Linked DNA regions of Homo sapiens: regions 1, 3 and 4 are each linked to region 2. Evidence: fine-mapped expression QTL. A gene starts in region 2. Each other region holds a variant in brackets. All regions are shown on one strand. Distances are between the middles of the regions.

Region 1 (4,268 bases), 200 kb after region 2:
AGCCCCAGGAGGTCAAGGCTGTAGTGAGCTGCAATTGTGCCATTGCACTCCAGCCTGAGTGACAGAGCAAGACCCTATTTCCAAAAACAAAACAAAACCTACGTTCTTTATAACTGTATGGTTGTCCTTTATCCTGTTAGAACAAATTCTGTTTAACAGATTTACTGTTGTTGGGAATTTAGCTGTTTTCCATTTTTTGCTATCATAATTAGTGAAGTAACATTCATCATTGTAAATATATTTTTCAATATCTCTGTAACTGTTTCCTTAAGATAAATTTCCAGAAGTAGTATTGCTGGAACAAAGACTTTGAAGAATTTGTTTGTCCAAAATTGCCTTTTAGGCTTGGCATGGTGGCTCATGCCTGTAATCCCAGCTACTTGGGAGGCTGAGACAGGAGGACTGCTTGAAGTTGGGAGTTCGAGACCAGCCTGGACAACAAAGTGAGACTCCTGTCTCTACAAAAAGATAGAAAAATTAGCGGGGCATGGTGGCATACACCTGTAATACTAGCTACTCAGGAGGCTGAGGCGGGAGGATTGCTTGAGTCCAGAAATTCAAGGCTGCACTGAGCTGTGATTATGCCACTCCACTCCAGCCTGAGTGACAGAGAAACTCCTCAAAAATAAGTAAATAAAATTGCCTTTCAGAAAGCTTGTACCAGCTTACACAGTATTAATATGAGGGTGCTATATTCCTTGTACCTTCACCAATGCTAGATTTTGTATTTTAAAATTACCTTTTCTAATTTGCCAGGTGGGCATGATATTTCATTTTAACTTGTATACTATGACATTTTTTTTAAAAACCCCATAGAGTCACTTTGTTTTTACACATTACTAATTAAATACTTCAGCACAGTCACCTAGCCTCAGAATTCACTTTAGGGTAAGCTTTCAATGCCAACTTTCATCTTGCCATACCTGCAAACAGATGCATAATCATCTCTTTAATACCAGAGCACACATCTTCTGAAATTATATTAAAACCCATCCTTTTTTAAAAAACAGCAGAACTTGCTTGTGGTGTGAAGTTTCTTCTCTTGTCTCTTGATGGTATTTAGCCAAGCCACAGTTGAAATCAGAGGCTGTTTCTTATTCAGTTTTTTATTCGTTACATGGGCATTCTAATATTTTGAAAGGACAGATGGTGGACGGGTGGGTAGATAGATGTACAAAGGAATGAATAAACATGCATTTAGAACTTACCTGAAAAGTTACGTGTTGCATGGGAAGGCAACATATTATGATCCAAGTTAGAAGAAGCAGTTTCTAATTCTATAGTGGTTCTACCATTCACTTTTTATGACCTTGTCAATATTAATCTCCCTGTGGCTCAGTTTCCAGTGTCTTCAATATTAAATGCTCTTTTTAAGCCTTCTCATTGCCATTGGCTTACTTTAGTCTTTTTCACTTCATTCCTAAACTATTGTAAATTCTTCCCTACTCCCAACCCTGCCTTCAGTCTGTGCATTGTACTGCCATCTGATTAACCATCCTGCAGGACCATATTCATTGTCATTCCTCTGTTTGATCGATTTTTGACTGTTCCCCTTGGTCTATAGGATAAATCCAGTCCCCTTAGTTTTTCAATTTCCTACCTCTCAGCCTTTGTTTATAGCATTCTGTTATCCAACAATTAACTGGCTTCTTTCTTTCCTCTTATTCAAATCTCACTCTTACTTAAAAATTGGACTTCATTCCCTCCTGTTCATGAAGCCTCCTCTTCCACTCCTTCTCCAGTGATCCTTGTTTTGCCCCTGACTCTGTGACACTTGCTAAACTGTACCGGGGTTTTCAGTGTGGGTCTAAGGAAGCCTGGGGGTTTGAAGCTGTGCTTCAGCCGTACTAAGTGAGCGTAGGGAAGACCAAGAGCTCCACTCCCTCCCCATCCAACCTCCAGGCTGCTTTCTCTATTATATATGTTGAGATTTTGTTTAGTGTTTCCTTTGAAATTTTTCTTCTTTGGCCGTATCATTTATGGACTGTATTGTTACTTTTTTTTTTTTTTTTTTGTCAAATACATGTATCTCTTTTTCTTAATTAGGTTTTGTTACTTGAGGATCTTGAACTTTTTTGTCTCTCACTTGCTACCTTTCAGAATAAATATTTGTTGTTAACTTTACGGATTAATATTTGTTCTGCCTTGTTCACTGGATATTGTGAGACTGAAATGAGAAAAAGATGCTTTGAAAAGTAATGTCACAGCTGGGTGT[T/C]GTGGCACACGCCTGTAATCCCAGCAGTTTGGGAGGCCAAGGTAGGAAGATTGCCTGAGCCTAGGAGTTAGCGACCAGCCTGGACAACATGGGGAGATCCCATCTCTAAAAAAAAATAAAATAAAAAATAAAAAAAAAAGGCTGGGTATGGTGGCATGCACTTACTCAGGAGGCTGAGATTGCTTGGGCCCAGGAAGGGATTGCACCGCTTTACTCCAGCCTGGGCAACAGAGCAAGACCCTATCTCCAAAAATAAAAATAAAAAAAGAAATGTCAAATTAACTAAATGTTATTCCCTTTAGGGTATTATCTTGGAATGAGAATTTGTTGGAAGCTAAAACTTGACCACATTGTAATGTATTTTATTCAAATGGTTTAGAAACACCAAAAATTAATGTTATTGTCTGTTCACACAGACTAGCAGAAATGCAAACATGTAAAGACACAAATTTGTATTACATGAGAAGTACAGTTATAGAAGTTTGTTCAAGTATATCTGTGGAACAAAGAAGGCACATATAAGCTGTTTGCAGGTGAGCCAGAGAGTGTTTTCCTTTTAAAGGGTAGCTTGCCAGATCGAAGTTGCAAGATGAGCAAGGCAGAGAAGTAGGCAAACAGAGTAGAATATAAAAGGCTCCAAGACGTAGAACAAGATCTTGGGAACTATTATCCCATAGAGCTAGTGCATAACAATGCTGAAATTGGAGATAAGCTGGACCTGAATAGTCCAGTATGGCGGCCACAAGCCACATGTAATTACTTAAATTATGCAAAGTTTAAAATGCATTTATTTAGTCATACTAGCCACATATCAAGAGTATGTTAGGCATATGTGGCTAGTGTCCACTTTATCAAATGTAGAACATTTCCATTAGCATAGGAAGGGCTGTTTGGGCTGGGGCAGACCATAGAGGACTTTGTGAACTTAATTGAGGAGTTGGGCTTTTATCTTGTAGGCAGTTATGAGCCTTTGAAGAGTCTTAAGCAGGGGAGTAACATGACCAGACTTGCATTTTTAGAAGATTTCCAAACTTACAGGTATCAGTTCTCAAGTATATAGCAGTTTTAGAATCAGTCAAACATTTCTATCTAGCACATAGCTTTTGCTGAAAAAGTATAATTACAAGGGAATTAGGTAGCCTGATTAGAGTGGAGAATAAAATAGATATAGGATTTGAACATCTTTCAAGACTTCTAATTCCACTGCAGCATTCTCTTGGAAGCGGTTGTTATTCTTATGATAGTCTGGAAAAAAAATGTTTCTTTACTTTTTTAGGGAGATTACTGGGTGATAAATGTTAGTGATAATGTTATGTGATAAAAATTTTCACAAACTATTACTCAAGATATTTATATCCTTATTTTGTTATAGGATTTGCCATTATGTTTTGAAAGCTAAGACTAATAACTGCCATGACTTGATAATAAGTTGACTAAATCAAGATGTTAAATAGAATTGTCATACATTTATTAATCAAAGTAATTTAATTAGATTTACTAACAAAATAAAAATGTTGCTTTTAATAATTTGAATTAAACGTTCATGCACATTTACTAATTTGGGCCTTTTCTTACAGTTAACCCAGTATCCACTCCAGTTGCACTTCCCACACCAGCTCTTTCTCCAAGTTTGATGGCTGATCTTGAAGGTTTACACTTGTCAACTTCCTCTTCAGTCATCAGTGTAAGTTATTTTTAAAATCCACCAGCTCGGTTTTCTTATGTTGCCATTGTATCTTTTTTATTAAAATGTAAATACTTGAAGTGGATTCTTAGTTTTGAACAGATTCTTCTCTAAGAACAAGCCCAATTTAGCTAAGACCTTTTAATTTTTTAAATAATTTACTCAAACCATTATCTTCTCAATTTTTTTCCCTTGTTGTCCACACTTAATTATCATCTGTATGTTTTTCTCTGGTATTGTTATATATCTGTAACATACAAAGGTTCTTCACCACATTGACGCAGTACATATACCTGAACTGTGCCACAAAAAGTTGTCTACATTAACAGACTTTCATTTCCGTAATCGTTTTATTCCTACCACACTATT
Region 2 (4,268 bases):
GGAGTAACAATCACATAAAATATTCTCAAGTTCATTATGGCCATGAGAATGAAAATTAATTACAATACAAATAATATTCATTTGTATCATATTGATGACAATTAAACATTTTTAGAAAGCTAAACGTTTGTGAGAATGTGAAGAAAGAAGATTATCCACTGCTAAAAGTATGCTGGAAAAAAATTTAGGATATCTGGTAAAAGTGTACATGCTCTAAAACCAAGAAATTCTGTAATCAGGTATGTGTCCGAGATTTTCCAGGCTATGTGTATATCAATGTTCTCATTTTACAAATAAAGTAATCAAAGCCTAGCTCTTTTTACTATTAATATATATAAAACTACTTAGAACTTTTAATATATATTAAAAGTTAACTATTTTAACTTAAAAGTATTTATTTTAACTTAAAATAAATTTTTTTATATTAAAAGTTAACTACTTTAACTATTTATATATATAAAACTACTTAGAAGTTTTAATATATATAAAACTACTTATATCCTGGTATATATTAAGGATTATATAATAATATATAGTTATCTATGATCATCCTCATCCTCATCATCAATAGTCAGTTGTAGGTGAAATTCTATTAATTAATACTGACAAATAACACATTTTAGGTGCTCATCATTGGCTCTCCGGAGGAGTATTCTAACAGCTGAATTAAAAACCTGCCAATATTTGACCAGACGATCAAGTTTGGAGGACGTCCCTTCCTCTCCCACCCAGAGCCACGCTCTTGCGTGCTTCCACAGTGACAGTGTGACCTTTTGAAATTTGGAGATCATACTCTCATCCTTGAAAACGCCCCACCGCCTTCCCTGGGGCGGCCGGCCTCCAGGTTCGCGTTCTACCTGGTAGAATCCCTTGACAGTTTCAGTACCTGGCCGCCAGGGCTTTGGGTGTTAATGCCTTCCTTGGACGGGAGGCACTGGGGAGAAGAGAGGGAAGGCGCTGAAACCCACCTGAGAAGGCGGGCTGGGGGAAGGCACCCCGGGAAAGAGGTTTTCTCGGGTGCCAGCACCCGGAGAGAGCTACTCTGGGGCCAGGCAAGCATCCCGCCTAGGCTCCCTAGTGCATATTAGTGAGTAACACGACTGGCGCGCGAGGTGGTCCATTTTATTTTTGGTAGCTAGACGCCAATAGGACGCACCACTTCAGCTCCAAACGGGAACTGGTGGCCCCAAGATGTTTTCTTTTCTTTTTCATTTTTTTGAGACAGGGTCTCGCTCTGTCGCCCAGGCTGGAATGCAGTGGAGAGATCTCAACTCATCGCTACCCCCTCCTTCTGGGTTCGAGTGATCCTCCCACCTCAGCCTCAGTAGCTGGGACCACAGACACGCGCCACCACGCCGGCTAATTTTTATATTTTTTGCAGAGAAAGGGTCTCGCTATGTTGCCTAGGCTGGTCTCGAACTCCTGGCCTCAAGTGATCCACCCGCCTCGGCCTCCCAAAGTGCTGGAATTACTGGCGTGAGCCACCGCGCCCGGTCTGCCCCCAAGACTTTCATTGAAAAGATGGAATGGTCGCTTCTGTGCGGATCCTCCAAACCATCGTTGGGAGAGGCCTCCTTAAAGTCTAGGAGAAAAGTTGTTTGGGACCGATATGAAAGTAAGGCAAAGCCGGATGGAAGAGAGTAGCCGAAACAAGCAAGAAAAGGAAAAGCGATCGTGATGGGTTTAGGAAAGGTGATCTGGCGTGCTAAATGGCATTTCCGGAGAAATCTGAAAACTATTGCTTTACTGAAGTATAGCAAAGAGCTGTCCGGGCTCTGGAAACTCCTTAACGGATCAAAACGGATGCAATGGGTATCCTTCTCCAAAGACACACCTCAAACGGGCCGGGAGCCGGGCAGTTAGCCACCCGCTGCCTCCCCTTCCGCAGTCCGGCTCGCAGCCGCTCAGCTACCTCTAAAGCCCGGAGCAGGAAAGTCCGCGCAGGCCTGGATGGCCCGGGTGGTAATCTAGCAGGCCTGCACACTGCGCATGCGCAGGGGGTGGACTGCCAGGTCGGCTCAGGGAGCCGTGACGAGTCCGGAAGCGCCTGCGCGCGCTCCTCCGTACGAGAACTAGTTTTGTTCCGTGCCCTCTGGACTGGAACCTTTTGGAGAGAACCCCCGGCAGGACCAACCCCGCACCCGCCAGCACCGCGGCAATGTCCAGCAATAGTTTTCCTTACAATGAGCAGTCCGGAGGAGGGGAGGCGACGGAGCTGGGTCAGGAGGCGACCTCAACCATTTCCCCCTCGGGGGCCTTCGGCCTCTTTAGCAGCGATTTGAAGAAGTGAGGAGAAAGGTTTGGGTTGCGGGGATGGGAGGGAGGAGCTGCGGACTCGGAGGAGTGGGCGCCAGGGTGGGCTTCCTGGAGAGGAGCGGGGTCGCCCTGAGGTCTGAGCAGGGCAGGGCGGTAACGTGTCCCGCGGGTGGGTAGGTGGGGTTGGTTGGCGGTGGTGGGAGTTGTGGGAGTTTGGGGCGAATGTGTGTAGGGGTCTCTAGTAGTTTTCAAACTTTAGTGAAAAGGAAACCACTTGGTGAGCTTAGATCCCACCCCTGAAGACACTGATTGAATTGGACTTGGGCTGGGCTCAGGAGTCTGAATTTTGAGCATCGTCTTCTAGTTTATTTACCGTTCGCCGGATCAGACTTTAATACATTCCCTGATTAGGGTGAAAGGAGTGTTTTGGTGAAGGTGAGAGTGCGAGTGTTGCTTGTGGGAAGTTATTTTGTGACCCCGGAGTGTAGGAGCAGAGAGGTGGATTTAGGCTGTTTGAATGGACAAACTGGTTTACACCAGTATTAATGTTCTTGGATTATGTCCTTTGCACTACAGACAAAAACACCAATCCAAAATAAGCATATGAATAGAAAATATTTTAAAAGAGTGTTACTGTGAACAAATCCAAAACTTTTACAGATTAATAATGTGAATTTTAAAAACGAATGTTAAACAAGGTACACTTAGTTTTGTAAAAAGTATCACCGAGAAATGGAAAGAAATCCCAAGTTGTTTGTTTTGGGGGGTGGGTTGGTGGTAGTGGTTACATTTACCAGAATTATCATTTTTACATTTCTCTTATTTTAAATCTTTCATTACTAAGCAATAGGGTCACATAATAGTCTGTCACTAAATTCATGCTAAATTAAGGTAGAATAGCTGTGCTAGTAGCTTTGCAGATCTGTTAGAGGGTATAATTAAAATTTAAATTAAACGTTACTAACAATATTGGGTAGTCTAGAAAGTGCTACTACTTCAAATTGGGATTACATTTTGGCTGTATTGAGGATCAAAATCATATATATAGCATGTAAGATACAATCTTTTCCTTTTTCCCAAGGTTAGAAAAGTTTAAAAGTAAGGTAACTGATTTCATTTTTCATTATATGCATTTGATGATCCATTGTTCTAGAACAAGTACGGAGCTTGTTGCCTCTACTATTAGCAAAATGTTTAGACTGAATTAACCTGTATATCGGCATCAATCTGTTTCGCAAATTAATTTACTTTTATGGTTTGTGAACATCTACGATGTTTTCTCTTAGATTTTTGTCAGATTTGGGGCCAGGCACTGCGGCTCACGCCTGTAATCCCAGCACTTTGGGAGGGTGAGGTGGGCGGATCGCTTGAGGCCAGGAGTTCGAGACCAGCCTGGCCAACATGGTGAAACCCCGTCTCTACTAAAAATACAAAAATTAGCCGGGCGTGGTGGCTCGTGCCTGTAATCCCAGCTACTCGGGAGGCTGAGGCAGGAGAATCGCTTGAACCCGGGAGGCGGAAGCTGCAGTGAGCCGAGATCGCGCCACAGCACTCAAACGTGGGCGACAGAGTGAGACTCCGTCTCAAAAAAAGAAAAAAAAGAAAAAGATTTTTGTCAAATTTGGACCTGATTTGGAAAAAAAAAACAAAAAAAACTTACGGCTTTGACTCTGTGACCAGTGCTCTTGAGGTGACCTAACAGGTTGGATTTAAAATAAAAGTAGCTAATTGATTAGAGGTGATATGTAATATATGCAAATAACCATGGTTGAATTGTGTTCCCCGAAAGATATTTATTGAGTATTTGTGCACACCACTTTACATTTATTATCTCATTCAGTTTTCCTAAACAACCCTGCAGGTTATTACCAGGTACTTCTCTGCTCCCACTTTACACGTGAGGAAATTGGAGCAAGGTTGTTAACTTGGAAAAGGCCACAAAGGTAGAACATTGCACTGCCTGAATTTGAACTCAGGGGCTCTAATATTAGAGCCCATTCTCTCAAAAGTTT
Region 3 (4,268 bases), 170 kb after region 2:
CCCCTGCTTCCGCCTTATCTCTCCCTCCTTGCTGCCCCCACCCACCAAAAAGCATTATCTTCTCAGAGTTGATAGCAATGCTATGCAATTTAATTTGGTCTCAGCAGTATTCTTTATTGGCTGATAGATTGGTTTGTTGGCTGGCTTCTTCCATTTTCATGTGCTCTTCTAAGCATTAACTACCTTATAGGGACAGTACTTAAATATAACATATTATGTTCGTTTCACCTGTCCAATTCAACAGAGACAAATTAATTTCTTTTTCATTTTGCTGATTATATTTATGAAATTAATAATTGGTAACTTAGAGAGAATCATTATAACTGATTGAACATGGTTTGATAAAACTGTCACTGTCTGTTGATGCCATGCAGAAAACAGCTTCAGTCTATTGGACTCTGAGACAATTGGCTTAAAATTATACTATGAGGGACACAATTAAATATAAAAATAACGTAGATAGTTTTCTTTTTAAATGCAGCTACAATACAAAAAATAATGTCCGTATTATCTTTCTTGTCTCTCACTCTACTTCATCTCCCTTCCAAGTCATGTCACTGTATTTCATGCATATAATATACTATGTTATTCTAGTTTTCCTGTAAAGTGATCTTACATGGTCAAGTCCTGTAACTGTGAAATATAACTTAGTAAGAAAAATGACCTAGGTTTAGATAATCTGATATTTTAATCAAAATGACTGGGAACCTAGTCAGATTGACAGTAGAAGTCACTTTGAATTACACACCACCATTTCTAGGATATAGGATATAATATATATTTATATTATGATCCCAGTAAGTTTTGAAGATCCTTAGTTAATAATTTATTTGCTTAGTTCTAGAAAGTCCTTTCTTCTCTACTGACAGAAAGACCGCCTTCTGCATATGAAGGGTATTTTGCTTCATAAACACATCTGTCAATATTTTATCCTTTACAGAAACTTTCAAATTAGCGTCTATGTTCTCTTCTTTTCTTTTCTTTTCTTTTCCCTATTATTCCTTTTCCTTACAATGATAATGTGGTCTTTTAGTCATAAAGGACCACAATACAAATTAAGATACTTTTATTGTTCGTCTTTGGCCTTTTAAAACCTGAAACTCCATAGAATTCATGGCCATGTCAAGAAAAAATGCACGTTTGAGCATAGAAGTCTGGTTTTCCGAAATTGTTGATTTAGTGTTATTAAATTAATCCAACAAACGTTTTATCAGACCTCAGAGAAATATGTTTGGATTTAAGAAAAATATGGACTTCAGAGTTTACCAAATATAAGAGAGCTTTGTTTATAGAATACTATCTTTGTAGACAGAAGCATTTTAAATAAATATAAAAGAAAGCCATACTGCTGATCTTATATAAGCATCTTATTCAAATATATTCAAGCTTCTCTTTTTAAGCAACATACCTTAAACCCTCTAGATCAGTGGTTTTATTTTTATTTGCTTTTATTTATTTTTTTGAGACATGATTTTGCTCTGTCACCCAGGCTGGAGTGCAGTGGTGCGATCATAGCTCACTGCAGCCTCAAACTCCTGGGCTCAAGCCATCCTCCTGCCTCAGCTCCCAAAGTGCTGAGAGTACAGGTATGAGCTACATCACCCAGCCTTAGACTAGTGGTTTTTAAATGTAGCTGCGCATTATAATCATATGGAGATTTTGTGTGTGTGTGTGTGTTTAATTTTTATTTTATTATTATACTTTTAGGGTACATGTGCACAATGTGCAGGTTTGTTACATATGTATACATGTGCCATGTTGGTGTGCTGCACCCATTAACTCGTCATTTAGCATTAGGTATATCTCCAAATGCTATCCCTCCCCACTCGCCCCACCCCACAACAGTCCCTGGAGTGTGATGTTCCCCTTCCTGTGTCCATGTGTTCTCATTGTTCATTTCCCACCTATGAGTGAGAACATGTGGTGTTTGGTTTTTTGTCCTTGTGATAGTTTGCTGAGAATGATGGTTTCCAGTTTCATCCATGTCCCTACAAAGGACATGAACTCATCATTTTTTATGGCTGCATAGTATTCTATGGTGTATATGTACCACATTTTCTTAATCCAGTCTGTCGTTGTTGGACATTTGTGTTGGTTCCAAGTCTTTGCTATTGTGAATAGTGCCGCAATAAACATACATGTGCCTGTGTCTTTATAGCAGCATGATTTATAATCCTTTGGGTATATACCCAGTAATGGGATGGCTGGGTCAAATGGTATTTCTAGTTCTAGATCCCTGAGGAATCGCCACACTGACTTCCACAATGGTTGAACTAGTTTACAGTCCCACCAACAGTGTAAAAGTGTTCCTATTTCTCCACATCCTCTCCAGCACCTGTTGTTTCCTGACTTTTTAATGATTGCCATTCTAACTGGTGTGAGATGGTATCTCATTGTGGTTTTGATTTGCATTTCTCTGATGGTCAGTGATGACGAGCATTTTTTCATGTGTTTTTTGGCTGCATAAATGTCTTCTTTTGAGAAGTGTCTGTTCACATCCTTC[G/A]CCCACTTTTTGATGGGGTTGTTTGTTTTTTTCTTGTAAATTTGTTTGAGTTCATTGTAGATTCTGGATATTAGCCCTTTGTCAGATGAGTAGGTTGCAAAAATTTTCTCCCATTCTGTAGATTGCCTGTTCACTCTGATGGTAGTTTCTTTTGCTGTGCAGAAGCTCTTTAGTTTAATTACGTCCCATTTGTCAATTTTGGCTTTTGTTACCATTGCTTTTGGTGTTTTAGACATGAAGTCCTTGCCCATGCCTCTGTCCTGAATGGTATTGCCTAGGTTTTCTTCTAGGGTTTTTATGGTTTTAGATCTAACATTTAAGTCTTTAATCCATCTTGAATTAATTTTTGTATAAGGTGTAAGGAAGGGATCCAGTTTCAGCTTTCTACATCTGGCTAGCCAGTTTTCCCAGCACCATTTATTAAATAGGGAATCCTTTCCCCGTTGCTTGTTTTTCTCAGGTTTGTCAAAGATCAGATGGTTGTAGATATGCGGCATTATTTCTGAGGGCTCTGTTCTGTTCCATTGATCTATATCTCTGTTTTGGTACCAGTACCATGCTGTTTTGGTTACTGTAGACTTGTAGTATAGTTTGAAGTCAGATGGCATGATGCCTCCAGCTTTGTTCTTTTGGCTTAGGATTGACTTGGCGATGCGGACTCTTTCTTGGTTCCATATGAACTTTAAAGTAGTTTTTTCCAATTCTGTGAAGAAAGTCATTGGTAGCTTGATGGGGATGGCATTGAATCTATAAATTACCTTGGGCAGTATGGCCATTTTCACGGTATTGATTCTTCCTACCCATGAGCATGGAATGTTCCTCCATTTGTTTGTATCCTCTTTTATTTCATTGAGCAGTGGTTTGTAGTTCTCCTTGAAGAGGTCCTTCCCATCCCTTGTAAGTTGGATTCCTAGGTATTTTATTCTCTTTGAAGCAATTGTGAATGGGAGTTCACTCATGATTTGGCTCTCTGTTTGTCCGTTATTGGTGTATAAGAATGCTTGTGATTTTTGCACATTGATTTTGTATCCTGAGACTTTGCTGAAGTTGCTTATCAGCTTAAGGAGATTTTGGGCTGAGACGATGGGTTTTCTAGATAAACAATCATGTCATGTGCAAACAGGGACAATTTGACTTCATCTTTTCCTAATTGAATGCCCTTTATTTCCTTCTCCTGCCTAACTGCCCTGGCCAGAACTTCCAACCCTATGTTGAATAGGAGTGGTGAGAGAGGGCATCCCTGTCTTGTGCCAGTTTTCAAAGGGAATGCTTCCAGTTTTTGCCCATGCTGTATGATATTGGCTGTGGGTTTGTCATAGATAGCTCTTATTATTTTGAGATACATCCCATCAATACCTAATTTATTGAGAGTTTTTAGCATGAAGGGTTGTTGAATTTTGTCAAAGGCCGTTTCTGCATCTATTGAGATAATCATGTGGTTTTTGTCTTTGGTTCTGTTTATATGCTGGATTACATTTATTGATTTGTGTATGTTGAACCAGCCTTGCATCCCAGGGATGAAGCCCACTTGATCATGGTGGATAAGCTTTTTGATGTGCTGCTGGATTCGGTTTGCCAGTATTTTATTGAGTATTTTTGCATCAATGTTCATCAAGGATATTGGTCTAAAATTCTCTTTTTTGGTTTGTGTCTCTGCCAGGCTTTGGTATCAGGATGATGCTGGCCTCCTAAAATGAGTTAGGGAGGCTTCCCTCTTTTTCTATTGATTGGAATAGTTTCAGAAGGAATGGTACCAGCTCCTCCT
Region 4 (4,268 bases), 460 kb after region 2:
AATTTTTGTATTTTTAGTCGAAACGGGGTTTCACCATATTGGTCAGGCTGAGTCTCGAGCCCCTGACCTTGTGATCCACCTGCCTCGGCCTCCCAAAGTGTTGGGATTACAGGCGTGAGCCACCACGCCTGGCCAGGATTCTTACTTAAAAGATTGTAAATATCTCCAGGGTTGACTTAGAAAAATTCACTAACATAGGTACTTGCTGCATACAATGTGTGCAAAGAGGTGAATTCTTGGTAAACACATGTGTTTGGATTTCCCACTTTCAGGCCCCTGTGTTCTTGGTGAATATAAAAACAGACCCCGCCTTTCTAAACCATGAATCGGACACCTAAGAGGACCACAAAAAGAAAGATCTCAGGTGTCCTCAGAGTTCATTCTTTTTGTCTTTAGTATAGGCAGCTCTACCATTTAATTGCATCAATTTCTAAAAGAAATGTAACAAGATTTTAAGTGTGTGTTCTAGTTGATGCTTAAGCTGAAAGGAAATGAAGTACTCACAAATGTTATATAATATAAGCCAAAGGGTTTTCACAGTTAATTGAAACATCTGAGTAGCATGAAGATTACCTGTGTTTTATGTCTGCCACTGATGAGAAAACGAGAGATTGGTGTGATGTACTCATTGGTTTGTGAATATAAAGGTGTACGGAGAGTGTCACAAATCACCTTGATGTCCCTGAGAAGGAGATTTTACCTCTGAAGCCCTGATTAATAAAAAAAGATATTTAGCTCAATAGCTCTTGGTTGCCTATGCATCTGTGTGTTCTGACACACAGCAGGCCCCTTCATTTCAGGGCTGGAATAACTTACACTCATGAAATCAGCTCAGGATTCATTGTCTTTAGATTAGTATATGTAAAACATCTCAGTTGGAGGCAGTAAAGAGTCAAAACAAATCACACTACACCTGGTTTGAAGATCTGTTCTCATTTGCAAAGGTTATATGAATTTGATATAAGAATACCAGATCATTTTTCCCTGAGCACAAAATTTGTTTATGGCCTGTCCAGAAAAGAAGTGGCAAAGACAGAGAGTTAGATATATTCATCGTCTGCTGTGTGCATGCCTGAGGTCAGCCTGATTTCTGCTGAACTCCAGGTTTTTTTTCTTTTCTGAAGGTGGGGAAGCTTTGGGAGGGAGTGGTCAGGGTGGTGAGCAGCAGGAACAAGAAGACTTGAGCTAAAAGCCCTACTGGACTTGTCATATCCACTTGCACTAGCATACACATAGCTAAAGAACAGACTAGAAGGAATTCAAAGGAACAAATACGCAGATCGAACTTCAATGTTCCCTGTCAGGCATAACATCCTGTGTTGTCTTCAGTAAGGGAAATGGAAGGGGAAGCTCCTCTAGGTTAAAAGGACCAAACCACCACCACCACCAGACAATTACACTGCCCGGGGCTCAGAGTGATTTTTGACTGTTTGTGACTGCATAGCTGGTTGGGAGTGGAGCCAGTTTCCCAGTTCAGTAACTTTTCTTCTACACCACAAAGAATGTTTCCCAGAAAGCTTATTTCCACAGGTAGTTAGCAAAACAAGTGTTACAAAAAGGGGTGATATGGTCCAATAAGGTTAGGAAGCAGACGTTTAAATCCATTCTTTTATTTAAACAATGTTAAGCAGTTTTCTTAGGGGCAGGGCTCCTCAGAGTCCTCATTTGCCGTTGTTGATTGTGACTTACTGATATAGGGTGCAGTGTTCCCAGGCGTGCTTGATGACAGAATCTTTTTCTGTTTTTTGGATCATGGAGGCTCTTTCAGGTTTAGTGATCACAAGGCACCCTTTGGACAAACTTTGTCTACATCAAGGTGATCCTGCAGTGACTGCTTATGTGCTTATTGGTCGAGAGAAGACCAATTCACAGTGTGATGAGGCACTGAAGGGTGAGTCAGGCTCTCAGACCTGCAGGAGCCTTCTCTGCTGAATGAGGTAGTTGGTCTAGAGGAGTGGTTCTCAATTAGTGAAGCAGTTTTATCACACCTGCTGGCAGTGGGACTAGAGGCGAGGAGGGAGCATGCGTGGTAGGCAAAGCTTTCTCCCTCCCCAGTGAAGAATGACTGATTTAGATGTCCCTCCCCATGGTACCTTTATTGACCTAATAACATCGTACATGCATATATTATTTGACTCAGCAATTCTTCTTACAGGAATTTTTCTTACTGGCAAAGTTACATTTTTAAAATACACATAGTGATATTCATCGAAGCAGTATTGGTATTATATTAACAAGAGATCAGAAATGGCTAAATATCTACCAAAGGAAAATATGTAGCCATTACAAAGAATAGAACTACCTCCCTCTGTATGATTAAATGAGAAAAGCAAAGCATGGACACTATAGAGCAGGCAACCTTGGAATAAAACTATATTATACACACTATCAATGTAAGAAA[T/A]ATATTTAAAAGCATATATATAAAGCATATGTTTGTTTATATATTGAATATCTCTGGGAAAATACGCAGAAAGCGTAACAGTTGTTATACTGGAGTGTCTTGGGGACAGAGTTGCCAAAGAGACTTATTTTATACTGTGTACCCTTTTGCACTGTTTGAATTTTTTTCCATATGCAAGGTAGCTGTTCCCAGTTCCTTTTCCCCCCATAAATGTATGCCAATCTTCATATCAACAGATGGAGTCTCTTTCTCCTGCTTTTGAATCTGGGCTGATTTTGTGACACACATTGGTGGGGAAGTGTCCATGAGGTAGGTCCACCCCTAGCCTTTGGGAGAAATGGCAGCTTCTGCTTCTGCCGCCGCTTCCATTAGAAGCCAGCTAACCTCAACCTTCAGGTAAGAAGTTCAATTGCCCTAAGAGCACTATGCTATGAAGAAGCCAATCTAGCCACGTAGAAAAGCCGCATGGAGGGAGAGATGCCCAGCCAGCCCCAAGCTGTTCTAGCCATCCCTGTTGAGGCACCCAATAGGCAAGTAAAGAAGCCATCTCAGACATTTCAGCCCCAGCAGCCAACACATGGAGCAGAAGAATCATCCCGGTGAGCCTGTCTCAGATTGCAGAACTGTAAAAAAAAATACATTGTTGTTTTAAATCAGTAAGTTTTGGAGTGGTTTACTAAGCAGCAAGAGATAAAAAATAATTACCTATTCAACATAAATATGTAAATTAACTTAAAAAGTGTTAATTCATATAATTTTGTATAAATGTAGGATTAGAGAGCAATTTAATAGGAGGATAAAGGAAGGGAGCTACAGGTGACTGCAGTGAGGCACCAGAGGGTATCACTTGGGGGAAAAGAGTGAACCTAGTGGGGAGTATAGGCAATTTTGCTGACTCCAAAAATTACCCTACGTCTTGCTTCTGTCAGAGTACCACATCTCCATCCCATCCTTCTATCTGTCTCTCTTTGTCACACATACACCACTTAATTATTCTCATAATTGGAGGGACAGGAGGGAATGTAAAGCAGGTTAATTGCTACCACCATCAACCAGTGTCTGCGACTGTGAATTGAGCGTGTGTTCCAAGTTACACCACTGGATGCCCTTTGGGAACTGGTAATACAACATAAAAAGAAATAAGACAAAAGAACCTAAGTAGCACAACCTCAATATTTCAAAATAATAGACAAGAGGAAGAGGCAATTAGTTTGATTTTAATGAAAAGAATGAATTCTAAAAGATTTCAAAGTGCTGCAGTTATTACTTTTAAGTACAGTGCATTTTACAAAGCTATAAATGGGTACCTAATAAGTTAAATGAGGTAAGTTAATGAAAGAATTAAGATTCACAAGAGGCCTACGTTATATAATTATGTATCATAAAACAGAAAGTCCTTTAACATGCTGAAATTAATTGGATGACCCAGAAATTGAAGGTACATAGAAGTTTTAGTTTGAAAAAGCAACTAATTTCAGATTAATGCTTTGTACATAGTAGGCATTCAACAGATGCTTGGTGAAGTAAAATGAACCAATTAGCAAAGTCCATTAGCAATAGTCACTCGCTCTGGACTGAGGATTATATCCAATTCCCAGTGTGTACTGGTAACTGCACCTTCACTCAAAAGCATATCCAAAGGTAACTGAGAATGAAAGGATAACCTTGAGCGTGTTCTCGTTTATTTTTTTGAAAAGCAAATCATTTAAAAACATCAGTAATAGAACTATCAATAGTAAAAAATTACTTGCCGAATATTGCAGTTAAGAACAACTGACTTAAGAAATTTTCTTCAGAAAATTGCAATTAAAGTGTGAATAGGTTAACTGGGAAGGAGTAATAGAGAAAAGAGTAGAAACAGTCAGAA

Which allele goes with the higher level. Positions count from the first base shown, and alleles are read on the strand shown. Sizes are in standard deviations (SD) of each study's normalised expression. Not every link is listed here.
For the expression in monocytes of the gene that starts at base 2,040 in region 2, G is the high allele of the variant in region 3 and A is the other (moderate effect, 0.57 SD a copy in Fairfax 2014).
For the expression in subcutaneous fat of the gene that starts at base 2,040 in region 2, allele A in region 4 goes with a lower level than allele T (moderate effect, 0.54 SD a copy in GTEx).

The links. PIP is the estimated chance that this variant, and not a neighbour inherited with it, causes the effect.
Region 1: its variant is the best candidate, but not a certain one, in a credible set for the expression of AP3B1 in whole blood (TOPMed, PIP 0.61).
Region 3: its variant is the best candidate, but not a certain one, in a credible set for the expression of AP3B1 in monocytes (Fairfax 2014, PIP 0.80).
Region 4: its variant is the best candidate, but not a certain one, in a credible set for the expression of AP3B1 in subcutaneous fat (GTEx, PIP 0.50).

The regions. Positions count from the first base shown.
Region 1 is chr5:78,089,024-78,093,291 of GRCh38, reverse strand. It overlaps AP3B1 (adaptor related protein complex 3 subunit beta 1), which reads left to right. Exons shown (of 27, transcript NM_003664.5): 22 at 3,793-3,899. Among named protein-coding and RNA genes, the nearest start is that of AP3B1, 200 kb to the left of the region's middle. The variant T/C (reference allele first, on the strand shown) is at 2,216.
Region 2 is chr5:78,292,470-78,296,737 of GRCh38, reverse strand. AP3B1 (adaptor related protein complex 3 subunit beta 1) reads left to right here and starts at 2,040. Exons shown (of 27, transcript NM_003664.5): 1 at 2,040-2,286. The coding sequence starts at 2,159. RefSeq lists enhancers at 780-829, 1,204-1,777.
Region 3 is chr5:78,121,769-78,126,036 of GRCh38, reverse strand. All of the region lies in intron 17 of AP3B1 (adaptor related protein complex 3 subunit beta 1), which reads left to right. Among named protein-coding and RNA genes, the nearest start is that of AP3B1, 170 kb to the left of the region's middle. The variant G/A (reference allele first, on the strand shown) is at 2,504.
Region 4 is chr5:77,830,233-77,834,500 of GRCh38, reverse strand. No RefSeq gene overlaps it. Among named protein-coding and RNA genes, the nearest start is that of TBCA, 56 kb to the right of the region's middle. The variant T/A (reference allele first, on the strand shown) is at 2,402.